2 separate regions of the Homo sapiens genome follow, and region 1 is linked to region 2. The links come from fine-mapping of genetic effects on gene expression. A gene starts in region 2. The other region holds a variant in brackets. All regions are shown on one strand. Distances are between the middles of the regions. Region 1 holds the start of LOC105378482 (a long non-coding RNA gene). Region 2 holds the start of DUSP5-DT (DUSP5 divergent transcript).

Region 1 (8,328 bases), 50 kb before region 2:
CCCCAAAAGGCAAGGTGGCTTGCCTCTCTGAGTCTCAGAGTCCTCATCTACAAAGTGGGAGTGCAGCTGGGAGGTCCCAGCAAGTAACACCTGCCAAGGACCCAGCACTGTGGCCAGTGCTTCCCAGCACACAACAAATGGTCTTCGTCCACCTTCTGCCTCATCTGCCATCACCACGGCCCCCACCTCCTCGGACTGGAGTCCTGCCCTTCTTTCTGGCTTCCTGGGGCTGGTCACAGCTTGACAATAGCCAAGCCGCCCCTGGTCCCAGATGATACTGGAGACCTTTCCTGTAAGCCATTTTCCCTCTGAAGCTGGAGTCACACAGGTCTTAAAGCCTCAGCTCAGAGAAAGAAGAGGGGGAGGTGACAGGGGCTATATATCAGAGGCCTGTCTCAGCTGTTGGCAGAGATTCCTTCCCAGCCAGGGACAGATGGCATCAGTCTCCTGGGGTCTGGATTGCCTGAGCTCCTGGGGTGGGTGCCAACACCAAGGGTGAGGAATTTGTGTGACCCTGTCACCTCCAGTCAGGGGACTCCCACACTCTTCTTCTTATAGCTGGGAACAAAGTGACAGGTCACTCTGAGGGGCAACTGATGACAGGCCCTTCTGTAACATTTATTTAGAACTGGCAGCCCCTCCTCCTTCCAAAAGGGCCTAAGGGAAAGCACTGACCATTTATGGAAGGCCTATTGTGTGCCCAGGCCTTTCTGCATTGACACTGCCATTGAGTCCCCACAAGAATGAGGAAACTGAGGCTCAGCAAGGTAAAGTAACTTCCTGACATCTGTCCACTAGTCCAAGGCAGAGGAGCATTAGAAAATGAGTTCCTTGACCAGGCATGGTGGTTCACGCCTGTATTCCCAGCACTTTAGGAGGCCAAGGCGGGTGGATCACTTGAGTACAGGAGTTTGAGATCAGCCTGGGCAACACAGTGAGACCGTCTCTACAAAAAATTTTTTTAAATTAACTAGGCATGGTGGTGCATGCCTGTGGTCCCAGCTACTCTGGAGGCTGAGATGGGAGGATTGCTTGTGCCTGGGAGGTTGAGGCTGCAGTGAGCTATGACTGCACTGCTTCACTCCAGCATGCCTGGGTGACAGAGTGAGACCTCATCTCTAAAAAAAGAAAAAAAAGGAAAATAAAGGAAGAAGGAAGGAAGGAAAGAAAAAAAGAAAGAAAGAAAGAGAAAGGACTTTCCTCTGTTATTTTTTAAAATGCAGATCAACAGGGCAAAAAGCATAAAAACAGACAATCATGCCTAGAGAGAGCAATAGTTCTTAACCTCCGGGAGAAGCTTTTAAGAATAGGATGTACATAATGCATTTATAATGCTGATAAGTGCACTAAGCATTTTCTAGAGGGATATATAAGAAACCATTAGTAGCACAAACCTTTAGGAAGAGAAACGGAAGTGGGGAGGGAGCAGTGAGAGAATTTTGCTTCTCATTTTGTGTCTTTCTAGAACATGAATTATTTTCCATATGCATTTAAAAAGTGAAAACAAGGGGTTATCTGGACAGTAGGATTATGGGCCATTTTAATTTTCTTCTTGACTCTTTTCTGAACTAAAAAAGAAAAATATGATTTTAAAAAAACCTTACGAAGCTAATGAAAGCTATGGACCTAATCCCAATAAAATTTTACAGATATATTAATTCATATAATTAACAACCCTTTATAGGAAAGATTGGAGGGAATGATTATACTTAAAAGCCAGGCTAAAACAAGATTTTCATGACTAGAAGGATACATTCCTCTGATATCTATATTGAAGCTACTGTCATTAATAATTAAAAATGGAAAACAAAAACCTAGGCTAATGCGGTTTCTGGAACCAAGCATTTAATTTTACTTTGAGCCCCGTGCCTTATACAGAGCTTGAACAGAGGAGATGCTCAAAAAATCCATTGGTTAGTGGACATTTTGTGCTCACTGGATCCCGAAGCAGGTACCCAGTCAACACTTGTTAACAGAAACCAGTAGTCAAATACTATTGGTCCCAACCACTGTCCCTGGACCCCAGCTGGGACCCTTATCCAGGTGAGAGTCGGAGGAGTGTGGTCAGCCTTGGGCTGAGTTGTGAGATCCTCTCCCCTGCAATGGGGTGAGGGTAAGGAGAGCACTGACCACTGTCACTACCGAGTGTCTGGGAGTGGTGGACACAAGCAGGGTCTTCCTTTCCTGACTGCCCTTTTAATACAGTATGCAGAGGATGTGTGGACTCAGCCTCATTAAATATTTACTGCCTGTCCCCAGCCTACCTACCCTCCTCCAAACACGTGCAGGTGTACAGGTGAGCAGAGGCCAGGGCTGAAACTCTCGTTCTCACATCTCTCTAGGAGCCAGAATCCAACCCCCTAGGATTCCTTTCCTCAGACCCAGGATATGAAATCACACCCAGAACACTGTGGGCACACCATGGCCTCAAAGGCAACACACGTCCATGTGTTGGCACCATCTTCCTCCAAACCAGATGACTTTTCCAGCTTCCCTCTCTGACATAGCCCCACATTCGCCCCATCACTCAAGCTCAAGGCCTCCATTTCCTCCATCTGTACCCCACTACCCCCAGTCCCGTCTCCAGACACCAGATGTTAGGAGCACTTCCTTCGGCAGCAACCTCCAGCCTTCCATCCCCTCTATTCTCCCCAGCAGCCCTGCTACCAGCCAATCAGTGTTCATGTCTGGGCTATTGCAGTAGACTCCTAACTTGTTTTCCTGATCCCAGGCCGTCCACCTCCAATCCAGCCTGCACCAGATGAATTAGAGCAGAGCACTCTTTTCCTCCATGCATGGCACAGCCCAGAAACATCTGAGAGCTTCCCATTGGCTTCAGAATGAGAGTCTCACTTGCTCACCAGCATTCATTTAATTTAGCCAACACTTACATCATTCTGGGCCAGGTACTATTTATTCTAAGTGCTTTGCAACTATTCACTCATTTAAACTTTATAAAATGAATTTGGTACTGTTATGATCACTGTTTTACAGATGGAGAAACTGAGTCACAGAAGGGTTAAGTAACTTGTCAAGGTCCCAGCATTAGTAAGCAACAGAATTCAAATTTGAACCCAAGTAGTGTAGCTCCAGAGTCCTCATTCCTGTCTTTGGGCATTTGTGTCCAGAATGCTCCATGCCACTTCGCTGACTACTTTCCCAAGGCTGAGTGTCTCCTTCGCCTTTTCCAAGCTTCTCTTCCATTTCTAGTGGCTCAGCCCAAGGGCGAGACAAACTGATCTGAGTATGATTGCCTAGTCCTTTCCTTCCCATGAGGACTCCTTTGCTCTACCTTCCTCCTATGTGGACTGCCATCCACACCCCATCTCCAGCTCGTTCTTACCCTCTGTCCAGGCTGAGCTCTTCTCACTTCTCTGACACCTCCACCCTCCATTCTCAGTGGTCATGCACACCTCCCAAAACTTCCCCTCAGCCCTCACCTGGTGCTCTTGTCTAGTCTGTAGTATCAGTCGTCTTGTGGGGTCCGTAGAGATTCTATCTTTCTAGTTCCTTGAGGGTAATGAGAGAGCATGTTGCAATTCTCACTTATCTCCCCCAGTAGTCTGTTGCCAGAGGAAGCCGGAAGTAGCCAGAGGGAGCCAGAGGGACTAGTGAGACTGGACCAGTGAGGCAACCACAGGAAGGGACACAGAGTCAGCTAGGGGTAGGCTCTGCCTTCCTGGAAAAGGCCCTACACAGACTTGTTGGGCCATGCAAGGTGAGAAAGGATGGTCCCAAGATTCGGCTTCTGCCTGCCTCTTCCACAAAGCTCCTGGCACTCTGGCCTCCTCATTCCCATCCCAGGGCATCTGTGCCAAGAATGCTGTGTTCCCATGTTGCTGCAGAGCCAGATTCCTGTCTCACAGCAGATGCTGCCTGAGTCACTTCCTCTTTGAGGCCTTCCCTGACCACTCC[G/A]TCCAATTTGTTGCCATTTCTCTTCCCCTATCTCTAGAGCCTCTCTCTCAGCATTGCCTTGTTTTATTTTTCTTTTTAATACTTACCAGTTTCCAAAGATATGACTTGATTCCTCAACCATTGTCACCCACCACCCCAATTAAAATGTAAGTTTCATGAGACATATCTCCCTTGTTCACCTCTGAACCGTAGGTCCTCACACATGCCTGGCACAGAGTAAGCCACTGATAAATATTTATTGAATGAAAGAAAGTATGGCCAGGGTCAGTAGCTCACGCCTGTAATCCCAGCACTTTGAAAGACTGAGGCAGGAGGATTACTTGAGCCCAGGAGTTGGAGACCAGCCTGGGGAACATAGTGAGATCCCTGTCTTATTTTAAAAAAGAAAAAAAAAGAAAAAGAATGCATGAAGGACCAAATGAATGAATCTTGTTTGTTGCAAACCAATGCAGCCACACATGGGCCTGCGCTTCTCCTGTCTTTCTTTGGCTGGAAAAGACCATCTGTGTCCACAGGCAACTGCAACAAAGAACCTCATCCCAATGAGTGCTTTTGTCAAGATGCCAAAGAGGCCATGTGGGCAGATCTGGAGAGGTCAGGAAATAGGGACTAGGGATGAGAGTGGTCTTGGTCCCCAGAAATTCCCACTTAAGTGGAGATGAGCTGCAGAAACCCTTTTTTGGTTTTAATCTTAATGCAAATCTTTAAAATGTGTACATAATTTTTACCATTGTGGTAGGCAAAATAGCTTAATGTAGGCATAACTGCCTTAACCAACCATTTTCTTACTGAGCTCTCACATGAACCCTAAAAGGTAACTAGAAATCTGTTTTTAATGGAAGACATAGTTGAGGTTCAAAGATATTAAACTACTTGCCAAAAATTACTCAGTTCTAAATTTTGTCCTAGACCAGAACATTACCGAATGATGTTTGACCTCCTCACTCATATTGCAATGAGATCCTTTGTACAGAAGAGACCCTAAGTAGGGGTGGGAGAATATTGATAATATTTAACCCGTATTGAGCTATTTCTATGTGTCAGGCACTTTTCTGAGACACTTAAATATAGAAACTAATTTAATCCTGACAATGTCCTTTTAAGAAATGAACTCTTGTATGGGGTGGGACTGTGCAAGGTGGAGCAGCAACAGAGGTGAGGGCTCAGCAGGCAGTCACAGGATAGGGCTGTGGGAGCCAGGCCACTGAGGTTGGGGCTGACTGAACTCACGGACCTGATACTTTTCTCGAGAAACAAACCAGCTCAAAAGAAAAATGGCATTTGTTGCAACACAAGGAGCCGTGGTGGTTGACCAAACCACTCTGATGAAAAAGTACCTTCAGTTTGTGGTAGCTCTCACAGATGTAAATATAACTGATGAAACAAAGTTAAAAATCATGCAAGAAAGTATTTGCAAGCCTCATGGTGACCTCAAACCAAGAAACATGCAATGGATACACAAAAAATAAAAAGTAAGAAACTAAATCATATCACCAGAGAAAATCATCTTCAGTAGAAGAAGACAGGAAGGAAAGAAAGAAGAGAAAACCAGAAAACAACCAGAAAGCAAATAACAAAATGGCAGGAGTAAGTCCCTACTTTCAATAATAACACTGAATGTAAATGGACTAAACTCTCCAATCAAAAGACACAGATTGCTGGAATGGATGTAAAAACAAGACCCATTGATCTACTGCCTGCAAGAAACACACTTCACCTATAAAGACACAGACAGACTGAAAATAAAGAGATGGAAAAAGATATTCCATGCCAATGGAAACCAAAAAGAGCAGGAGTCACTATACTTATATCAGACAAAAACTATAAGAGACAAAGAAGACCACTATATAATGATAAAGGGGTCAATTTAGCAAGAGGATACAACAATTTAAAATGTATATGCACCCAACACTGGAGCACCTAAACATATAAAGGAAATATTATTAGAGCTAAAAACAGAGATAGACCCCAATACAATAATAGCTGGAGACTTCAACACCACTTTCAGCATTGGACAGATCTTCCAGACAGAAAATCAACAAAGAAAAATCAGACTTAATCTGCACTATAGACCAAATGGATCTAAGAGATATTTACAGAACATTTTATGCAAGAGCTGCAGAATATACATTCTTTTCCTCAGCACATGGATCATTCTCAAGGATAGACCATATGTTAGGTCACAAAATAAGTCTTAAAGCATTCAAAAAAGTTAAAATAATATCAAGCATCTACTCTGACCACAATGGAATAAAACTAGAAATTAATAACAAAAGGAATTTTGGAAACTATACAATATATGGAAATTAAACAATCTGTTGCTGAATGACCAGTGGGTCAATGAAGAAATTAAGAAGGAAATTGGGCCGGGTGTAGTGGCTCACACCTGTAATTCTAGCACTCTGGGAGGCCTACGTGGGCCAATTCCTTGAGCTCAGGAGTTCAAGACCAGCCTGGGCAACATGACAAAACCCTGTCACTACAAAAAATACAAAACTTAGCTGGGTGTGATGGCACATGCCTGTATTTCCTCCTGTATTCCCAGGGGGCTGAGGTGGGATGTTAAGGTTGCAGTGAGTCGAGATCACACCACCACACTCCAGCCTGGGTGGCAGAGCCAGACCCTATCTCAAAAAAAAAAAAAAAAAAAAGAAAAGAAAAGAAAAGAAAAGAAAAGAAAAGAAAAAAAGAAAGAAAGGAAAGAGAGAAAGAAAAAGAAAAAAGGAATGAAAAAACTTCTTGAAACAAATAATAATGGAAAAACAACATAACAAAACCTATGGGATACAGCAAAAGCAATACTAAGAGGGAAGTTTATAGCTAAAAGTGCCTACATTGAAAAAGAGGAAAAGCTTCAAATGAACAATCTAACAATGCAGCTTCAAAGACTATAAAAGCAAGAGCAAACCAAACCCAAAATTAGCAGAAGAAAAGAAATCATAAAGATCAGAACACAAATAAATAAAATTGAAATAAAAAAATACAAAAGATCAATGAAACAAAAAGTCGGTTTTTCAAAAAGTTAAACAAAATTGAGACTAGTGAACAATACAGTCAGGATGGCTAAAGATGACCCCACAAAACCAAAGAGCAAGATGTCTGCTTCTGCCTTTTTGTGTAGACGTGCAGAGAAGAACATAAAAAGAAAAACCCAGAAGTTCCTGTCAATTTTGCAGAATTTTCCAAGAAGTGCTCTGAGGGGTGGAAGACAATGTATGGGAAAGAGAAGTCTAAATTTGATGAAATGGCAAAGGTGGATAAAGTGCACTATGATCAGGAAAAGAAGGATTATGGACCAGCTAAGGGAGGCAGGAAGAAGAAGGATCCTAATGCCCCCAAAATGCCACCGTCTGGATTCTTCCTGTTCTATTCAGAATTCCGCTCCAAGATCAATTCCACAAAACCTAGCATCTCTATTGGTGATGCAGAAGAAAAAAAAAAAAAAAAAAAAGCTGAGTGAGATGTAGAGTAACTTAAATGACAGTGAAAAGCAGCCTTACGTCACTCAGGCGGCAAAGCTGAAGGAGAAGTATGATAAGGATGTTGCCGACTCTAAGTCGAAAGGAAAGTTTGATGGTGCAAAGTGTCCTGCTGAAGTTGCCCGGAAAAAGGTGGAAGAGGAAGGTGAAGAAGACAAGGAGGGAGAAAAGGAGGAGAAGGAGGAGGATGAATTAAAAAAAAAAAAAAAAAAAAAAAACCTGTTTATCTGTCTCCTTGTGAATACCTTAGAGTAGGGGAGGGCCGTAATTGACACATTTCTTATTTGAGAAGTGTCTGTTGCCCTCATTAGGTTTAATTACAAAATTTGATCACGATCATATTGTAGTCTCTCAAAGTGCTCTAGAAATTGTCGGTGGTTTACATGAAGTGGCCATGGGTGTCCAGAGCACCCTGAAACTGTATCAAAGTTGTACATATTTCCAAACATTTTTAAAATGAAAAGGCACTCTCATGTTCTCCTCACTCTGTGCACTTTGCGGTTGGTGTGACAAGGCATTTAAAGATGTTTCTGGCATTTTTTTTTTTTTAATTTGTAAGGTGGTCTTAACTATATGGTAATTGGCTGGAAACCTAAGTTATCAACTGTATATATCTATAGTTTGTAAAAAGAACAAAACGACCAAGACAAACTCTTGAAGCTCTTTGCTTGGGGTTGAGGCTGTGGGGAAGTTGCCTTTTGGAAGGGCCATAGCTCAGGGCATGCACTGTGAGGCTGGACCTGTTGCCTCTGCAGAGGGCATACATTTAGCTTCAGGTTGTCTTGTTTCTGTATATTGTGACACAGCATTCAGTGGCGCGATCTCAGCTCACTGCAACCTCCACCTCCCAGGTTCAAGTGATTCTCCTGCCTCAGCTTCTGGAGTAGCTGGGACTACTTTTTAAACAAACTGTAGAACTATTCATTATTAGCAA
Region 2 (8,328 bases):
GGGCACTCTGATTTATCCCCACAGGCCACCTGGCCCACCTTATGGGCTGAGGAGGGCTTGATGGGCGGAGGGAAGCAGAGCTGAGGAGCTGGGGAGGAGCTGGAAAGGACTGCTAGAAGGTTCCACTGAAGCTACAATGAGTAGAACCGGACATGAGAGTTTCCAGGATTCTGTAGACCTGTGAACTCCCTGAATTGTAAGCTGCATGGTGTGTGTGCAGTTTCCAAGGAGAGGGCCCATAACTTTTGCAAAAGGGTACCCCATGACCTTCCAAAAGGTAACCCCAGATTATAACAACAATGACCCAAGACATGAGGGTTAGGACGACTGGTCAAACAAGGGCCAAGAACCCTGAAACACTTCTTGCCCCTCTGAAAATAACTGTTGAGGGGCAAGATTAATGAATAGGACAAGGTCCTGCCTCATGGACTCACAATATTAATTTAGATTTTGCTTTTTTCCCTGAGCCAATTCTCACACTCATTCCAAAGTATTTGGGACACAGGCAAGAGATTAGTTGCTCCATTAAGCCCTTCCAGTCTCAGACACTCTCCTCTTCCTCCTAGACCTGTGGCCGATGGACTCCAGGTCCTGAATCTATGGACTGTGCACCTCCAGTTTTCTGTTTCGCCTTTTATCCAGTGTCTAGGGCCCTGATTTGTGCTGTTACCAACTTTCTCCCCAGGTGCCTCCTAAAAAGCTGGCCACTCTCATGTCTCAGCAAGCACTGAATTCCATTCCACCAACACTGATTCAGCCCTCACCATGTGAGGGTGTTGTGAAGGAGACACAGATGGTCGGATAAGGCCCCTAAGTCTAGCCTGGGAGACTGCAGGTTAATGGCAGGACAGATAACACTCACGGACCAGGCTAGTGGGGAAGGGAAGTGAGAACCCCTAGGAGGGTGACGGCTAACAGGCTGGGGGATTAAGTGGTGGCATCCTGAATGTGCGACAGTAGCTCCAGAGCTGTATGAAGGTGGAGAAGGATTGCTTTACAAAGAATGGGGGCGGTGTGCGGAGGGGTGATGAGAAGGAAGGTGAGAAACGTTAGAGGTGGGTTGTGGCCAATTGGCCAGACCGAGGACCTTAGTGTTCACTAAGGAATTTGGATTTTATCAAGACAGTGCGTAGGTGGCATTGAAAATTTTTGAGCAGAGGAGGTGGGCTCTGTGCTTAGACGTAAGCTTAAGACCACACTGCAGAGGATGAGAGAGCAAGGAGGGGGCTTTGAGACTGGGATACAGGATGCTAATGTAGGGTCCAGTGGGGATGGGGGATAATGGGGCCCTTTAACTACAGCGATAGGCAGGACCACCTACAGAGTTTGTGGGGTCCAGTGGGAAAGGAAAATGCAGGGTCTCTTGCACAAAATTATTAACAATTTAGTAACAACAGAGCATTAAAACAAGTGGGGGTCCCTTCTAAGTACGGGGCCCCGTTTGGCTGCACAGGTCACATACCTGCAAAGCTGGCCTTGGCCATGGGACAAGACAGGATGAGTCAGATGAGAGCTCTGGGAAGCAGGGTCCCAGGACTTAGTAATCTGTTGGATATGGGATGTGAGGAAGCAATCCAGCTGACAGATGACCCTCCTACACCGGGTGCCATGCCACCCTTCTGCTTTCTGGGCACCTTCCTTGGTGTGACCAACTCTAGCTTATTAATATGAATAAACTTCACCCACTCCTCCTTTTCCTGCTACCCTCACCCCAGACCTGCTCCTGTAGAGTCCCTATCTAAAGGTTAAAAACTATGGTGTTGGCCAGGGGTAGTGGCTCATGGGTCATACCTGTAATCCCAGCACTTTGGGAGGCCAAGGTGGGCGGAGCACAAGGTCAGGAGTTCGAGACCAGCCTGATCAACATGGTGAAACCCCGTCTCTACTAAAAATACAAAAATTAGCTGGGCGTAGTGGTGTGTGCCTGCAATCCCAGCTACTCAGGAGGTTGAGGCAGAAGAATTGCTTGAACCTGGGAGCCGAGATCACGCCACTGCACTCCCGCCTGGGCGACAGAGCGAGACTCTGTCCTAAAAAAAGAAAAAGAAAAGAAAAATGCTAACCGGGTGTGGTGGCTCAATCCCAGCACTTTAGGAGGCTGAGGTGGGAGGATTACTTGAGGCCAGGAGTTTGAGCCCACCCTGGCCGACATAGTGAGAACAAGCTTTTTTTTTTTGAGACCGAGTTTCGCTTTTGTTGCCCAGGCTGGAGTGCAATGGCGCGATCTCGGCTCACTGCAACCTCCGCCTCCCAGGTTCAAGCGATTCTCCTGCCTCAGCCTCCCAAGTAGCTGAGATTATAGGCATGCGCCACCATGCTCGGCTAATTTTTTTGTATTGTTAGTAGAGACGGGGTTTCTCCATGTTGGTCAGGCTGGTCTCGAACTCCCGACCTCAGGTGATCCGCCTGCCTCCGCCTCCCAAAGTGCTAGGATTACAGGCGTGAGCCACCGCGCCCGGCCCGAGAACCTATCTAAAAAAAAAAAATCCGGAAACAAAAAAATCTTTGGTGTCCCTCTCCAGTTCTCTCTCCCCATCTCACCCCTCCCAGCATCTCACTTCCTCAATGTGCTCCCATTCCTATGGCCTCCCCATAGCTGCTGTCACTGCCAAGTTCTGGCAAGTCCATATCAGCTCATGTCTAGATTACCCATGAAATCCTCCCATCCATCCCCCAGACTCCGGACCCCACCACCACTCTCAAATAAAGCACCGATCCCGCACAGAGCCGCCTCAGCGATGTTCCCAAATGCTATCCGGATCTTGTCACTGAGTAAGATCCCTCGTTGGGGACTGCCCGGCCAAAGACTAAGACCCAAATGACTCAAAACAGCACAAGGCCCTCTGTTGCCTGACCCTGCTTAATCTGCTAATAAATACCAGAAGGGCCTTAGTCTCCCACATACCTCCAGTACGCACCATGCTGGGGGGGTTGCGTTTTTTGTTTTCTTTACCCCAAGCAGTTTCCTCTGCCTGGAATCTCCCCTCCTGCTTCGCAGCCTGGCTTACAATTCATTCCTCGGAGTTGGCCTCAGCTCTCCTCTCCTCGGGAGGCCTTCTCCAGCCCACGCCCCACCCTGCCACACCCCTACTGGGCGCTCTTCCCCACGGACTACAGGCCTTCCCCTTCCCTCTGGGCTGGGGGCAGCTGGGGCTGAGTATAAGTCTTACTCACGTTGGTGCCGCCAGCCCCAAAACAAAGCCTGGCCCACGTGGGTGCTCCGCGTATGTGTGTGGCTCTAGGCGGAGATGCCGGGGGTGGAAAGAGCCGGTAACAGAAACAGAACGTGCTAGAGGAAGAGCAGCCTGCAGGGAAGGCTGGCACAGATAACCACAAAAAGAAAGAAGGCCCCCGCATCACGTCTTCACCAAGACCCCACTGGCAAGGCGAGGACAGCGCCTTTGGGTGGATGCATCTGTGACCCAGAGGCAATGCTGGCTGTCCTGGTGTCTGATTTGATTGCATCTGATTTCAAAATTTGATCTCTGCTTCCTTCTGAAAACCTCATTCCCTTATGTCAGTTGTCAACAAGCCCTTGTCTAGTGCGGGCAGACTGTTTTCCATCAAGCAGTCCCAGCCAGGCTAACAATAAAATGGTTGGCAGTGAGCTTGGGGGCAGAAACCTGTTTCCATCCATGTGTCCCCGCAGCTAGCAAAGCCCTGGCACACGGCTGACCCTCAATAAATGCTTGCTGAATGGGTGAATTGTGTCTGCTTCCCCAGGAATAGGGGTGGGAGGCCTGAAGCCCCTGGGGACCGGTGGGGGCAGACAGCCTGAGATTAAACTTGATCCATAGATAATCCCCCAAATCCAGAAGCCACCTGGACAACAGTTGGCTGAACTGAGCTCCATCGTGGGATACATGCTGATGGTACTGCTGAGTTCACCAAGGGTCTCCCCGGGACCAGAAAACAGCTCCTCAAAATACAACTTATTATTCTAATCATTATTGGAGAGTGACAGAGAAAAGAGCGTCAATCCTTTGAGGGCAGAATCCATTTAGGAAGATTAAATGGCTATTCTCACCGCCGACCCCCAACCCCCGTTTTTACTTTTACAAACTTTATTATGAAAAATATCAAACATACAGAAAAGTGGAGAAAACAGTATAACGAATCCGGCCACCCATCACCCAGCCTCAGCGATGACCAACCCGCGCCTGACCTCTCCAGTCATCTATACCCCACCCCTCGAGGCAAATCTCCGACGTCCTCTCCTTACACGCGCAGACCTCGGTAGCGACGGGAATCCGTTCCGGACTCCTCTGGGGCCCTGGCCGGCTCCCTCGGCCCTGCTCAGCGCGGCGCGGGCGGGTTCTCAGCCCACGTCCGTGAAGCTGAAGGCCGGATCGTGCGGCGCCGCCCCGCCCCCCACGGCGCTTCCTCCTCGGTCCGCACCGCGAGGGTCACCGCGGCCCCGGAGCGCCTGGGACACTCGACCGGCAGCCGCGGGTGATGCGCGAGTGAGTCCCTCAGCGAAGCGCGGAAGAGAGAACGAAGAGGCGCCTTCCACTTCCTCTCGCTCTAACGCCGGCACCCGCCCCGCGCGTCCCTCGCCCCCGCTGCCCCGCCCCCTGCAGGGCGTGGCCACGGCCCGAGGGGCGGGGAAACACCCATATTTGGCCTTATATGGGCAGCCGCGTCACGGACGGCACTCATTCACATAAAACGCTGCGCGGCCGGCGGAATCCCCGGCTTCTAGGGCGGCGAGCGGCCGGGCTGGCTATCGAGCGAGCGGGGCGGGAACGCGGAGTTGCGCCGCCGCTCGGGCGCCGGGCTCCGTCGCGGCCGCAGCCCCGCGGGTCGCCCTCCCGTGCCTCGCCCGCGGACACCCTGGCCGTGGACACCCTGGCCGTGGGCACCCGCGGGGCGCGCGGCGCGGGGCCGCTGGCCGGCGGCGGCGGCGGCATGAAGGTCACGTCGCTCGACGGGCGCCAGCTGCGCAAGATGCTCCGCAAGGAGGCGGCGGCGCGCTGCGTGGTGCTCGACTGCCGGCCCTATCTGGCCTTCGCTGCCTCGAACGTGCGCGGCTCGCTCAACGTCAACCTCAACTCGGTGGTGCTGCGGCGGGCCCGGGGCGGCGCGGTGTCGGCGCGCTACGTGCTGCCCGACGAGGCGGCGCGCGCGCGGCTCCTGCAGGAGGGCGGCGGCGGCGTCGCGGCCGTGGTGGTGCTGGACCAGGGCAGCCGCCACTGGCAGAAGCTGCGAGAGGAGAGCGCCGCGCGTGTCGTCCTCACCTCGCTACTCGCTTGCCTACCCGCCGGCCCGCGGGTCTACTTCCTCAAAGGTGAGCGCTCGGGGTCCCTGCCACGCTCGCCCCTCCGGCGCCCCCGGGTCCCCTCCCTGCGCCGGGGCGCCCTCCTACACCCTGGGACCGGGAGAGTCACCACCTGCAGGAGTCTGCACCCTGTGGCTTGTTGTGCGCTTGGGAGGGCACTGCAAATGTCAGCACTCAGAGCTCCCCCTCTTCCCCACCCGCGTTCCTCGAAAGCGCCCGGCAGCGGGTCTGCCCGGTGGTCTGGGTGGAGTTGGTTATGCTGCGGGGGCTGCTGCTGTTTAGCAGTTTGGGGGCCGTCGGCTCGTGCCGGGCACGAGCCCCCTTTCCAGACGCGAGCTTCGCCGCTGTCGCTGGGGTCAGGGCTCGGGGCCTTCCTGATAGACTGATCTGGCGGGATCAGCAGGTCGCGATCCACTCTCCCTTGGTGTGGCGCCGTGGTGCCCCCCTTCCTCCCGCCTAGCCAGCTGTGGTCTTCACCGACCCCCTTGCCTTTTTGACCTGGCGAGTCCCTTCCCTTTCCATTTCATTTTATTGCTTTTTATTGTTTCCCTCCGGCCTCTTCTCCCCTCCTAGGTCTTTTCTCTAGCTCAGTTTGGAGCTCACATCCTTTCCACCCTTTTCACCTCCTCCTTCCTCCGCCCCAGGATTATCCCTGGGACCCATCCTGAGCTGAGCCTACAGCCAGCCAGCCACGAAATAGAGGTGCGCGGGGGCAGGGTGGTATGGAGATTCTGCGGCCTTTGATTTGACACCTCCCGGAGCTACCGCCACAGGCCTGCCCATTTCACCTGCCGGGAAGATAACTTTGGCTTCTGGTGGTGGGTGGGTGATTGACTCTCAAAATCCAAAGCATTGGTTTTTTCTGGGTTACTTCCTATGACTGCTCCTGCTTTGTGTTTGAGTCCTTTGTAACCTCAAATGACACCCGGGGAGACCTGACCCACATGTAGAGATGAGGGTTTAGCCCCAGCAGGGCCCCAAGGCCGTGCCAGCCCTGGCGCGGACACCTTGGGATGTAACAGTGTTGGGGATCAGAGCTCGGTGCAGAGAGCCGGCGCCGAGTTAGGAGCCTGTTTTAAAGCCATGCAACTTGAGTTTCACACAGTCCGGGCCAGGAAGATTCTGGAGACAGTTCCCCTCTCTGCTAGCACCTCCTGCTGACTGGTCCCCTGTTGATTTCCTGTTGGAGAGTTAACAGAGGTAGATGGTAATCGTCCTTCTTCTAACAGCCTATCCCCCAGGGGATAGAGGGTTGGCCCTCTGGCTCTGCAGAGGTTTCAGCGTGCCTCCTGATTTCTTTCTCTTCCTAATATGGTTTTTATCTCCTGTGGTTTGGAGAAGTTTCTGCCTCAGTAGTATGAAAGAGGTTCCAGGAGACCCTCCCTGGTCCCACCTCTCCTCCCCATGCTTCTCTAAGCTGGCCCTGCTGACAGTTTAGAAGTTGTCGCCACAAAGTAGGCAGCTCTATAGACTCACATCTCAGGAAAACTGGGTTAAAATGTTTTTTAAAAGAAGGTAACATATACACAGGTAAAAATTTGAACAGCATGAAGGCCCTGTGATGAGAAGCGGGTCTTCTGCATATCTTAGAACCCAGTTCCACTCCCCAGAGACAGTCGTCAACTATTTTTTGTTTACCTTTAGATAGTTTTTCATAAGTATCTTAGAAATAGATTGATTTTGTATAGTCCCTGTCCTGCCTCTTGTATCTATCTAGATCTTGGAGACTTGTCCATATCTGATCATACATGTCTGTTTCACATTGAACCGGTCTCCTGTAATGACCATTAGGTTGCGTCCCGCCTCACTGCTCCAAGCAATGCGGTAGATGTCCTTCTCCATGTGCTCTTGCGTGTGCAGTGCCTTTCAGTAAATCATGAGAATTGCCAGGTCAAGAATTACATGCATTTTAAGTTTCAGTAGAAATTGCTTCATGCCTACCCTTATAACACTACTAAACTTTAAATTGTTGCCAGAGAAAATTTTTATTTCTTTACGTAATTCATGTGCAGATAGGAGTTCAGGTTTTAATCTGGTGGCATCTCAGATCTTGGTGGGGGCAATGCCTTTTGACACTTTCCATAATCCCCTGTCTCCCAAACAACCACTAAAATGAAATGGTGATGACTGAATTGCGTGGTCAGTGCTTATTTATATATAGTATCTGTGCTCTCTCTGTTCCCTGGTGATGTGGTGGTGATTGAAAGCAGACTCACTCCAAAAGAAGTAGCTCTAAGAATTGCCATGGCTTTTGCCACTCGAGTGAGGCACCAGCGAGGAATGTTCTGTCTCTCCACACCTCTGATGGGAGTGGGTGAAAGACTGAGACCATTTAATCTGGAGGATTCCTCTGAATCCCAGCTTGAAGAGGCAGGACCCTGTTTATCTGTCCCTCAACTAAATTTTGTCAACAGCATGCAGGATCCAGCCCACACCCGAACCTCTTATCTGTCCTCCTGATAGCCAACTCTGAAGTAATATATTTAAAGCCAAAAGATGGGGTAGCCTGAAGATTCCTATTTCCCCAACCTTCGTCCTGAAGTTTGGGAGGGCCCAGGTCATTCTGAACTCCAAATTCCCATCCAAATCCTTGTTTGTCTCCTGGAACCCATAATGTCGAGGTCCAGGCACGGGAAGTGATCAGGTGGTTTACTGACTAGGGATGCCTCTTCCAAGGAAGCTGTGGGTCATTGTGAGCCTGCCTCATTCTCTCTTGACTGCTGGAAGGGAAGGGGCCCAGGGGCTATGGCAGAGCATGGGAAGCTAAGCTGCCTATAGCACCATCTTGCACCTCTGCCGTGGCCTCCCGTTGTCGTGGGGAGCATGGTCATTGAGGAGGACCAGGAGCTCATGGGCAGGCGCAATGGGCTGCTTGTGAGGTGACCACAGGGGAGATCTGGGTGTACTAAGTGGGGGCGGGGCAGTTCCAGTGAGCTGAGAGGAAGCGGTAATGGCAAGATGACTCATTCTAGGAATTGGCTGCAGCTTCTGGGAGGGAGTTGGAGACTGCCTTGTAATCCATTAACCATTTGTCTACTGCAGGGCTTTAA

What was found.
Region 1: its variant is fine-mapped to the expression of DUSP5-DT in whole blood (TOPMed, PIP above 0.99). The same link has a PIP of 0.9 or more in blood mononuclear cells and macrophages.

Annotation. Positions count from the first base shown.
Region 1 is chr10:110,443,655-110,451,982 of GRCh38, forward strand. It overlaps LOC105378482 (a long non-coding RNA gene), which reads right to left and starts at 3,782. Exons shown (of 4, transcript NR_188210.1): 1 at 3,441-3,782. It also overlaps the pseudogene HMGB3P5. The variant G/A (reference allele first, on the strand shown) is at 3,916.
Region 2 is chr10:110,493,214-110,501,541 of GRCh38, forward strand. DUSP5-DT (DUSP5 divergent transcript) reads right to left here and starts at 3,269. Exons shown (of 2, transcript NR_187547.1): 1 at 3,175-3,269. It overlaps DUSP5 (dual specificity phosphatase 5), which reads left to right and starts at 4,694. Exons shown (of 4, transcript NM_004419.4): 1 at 4,694-5,287. The coding sequence starts at 4,909. RefSeq lists an enhancer at 3,216-3,739 and silencers at 4,221-4,750, 4,761-4,900, 4,971-5,030, 5,151-5,420.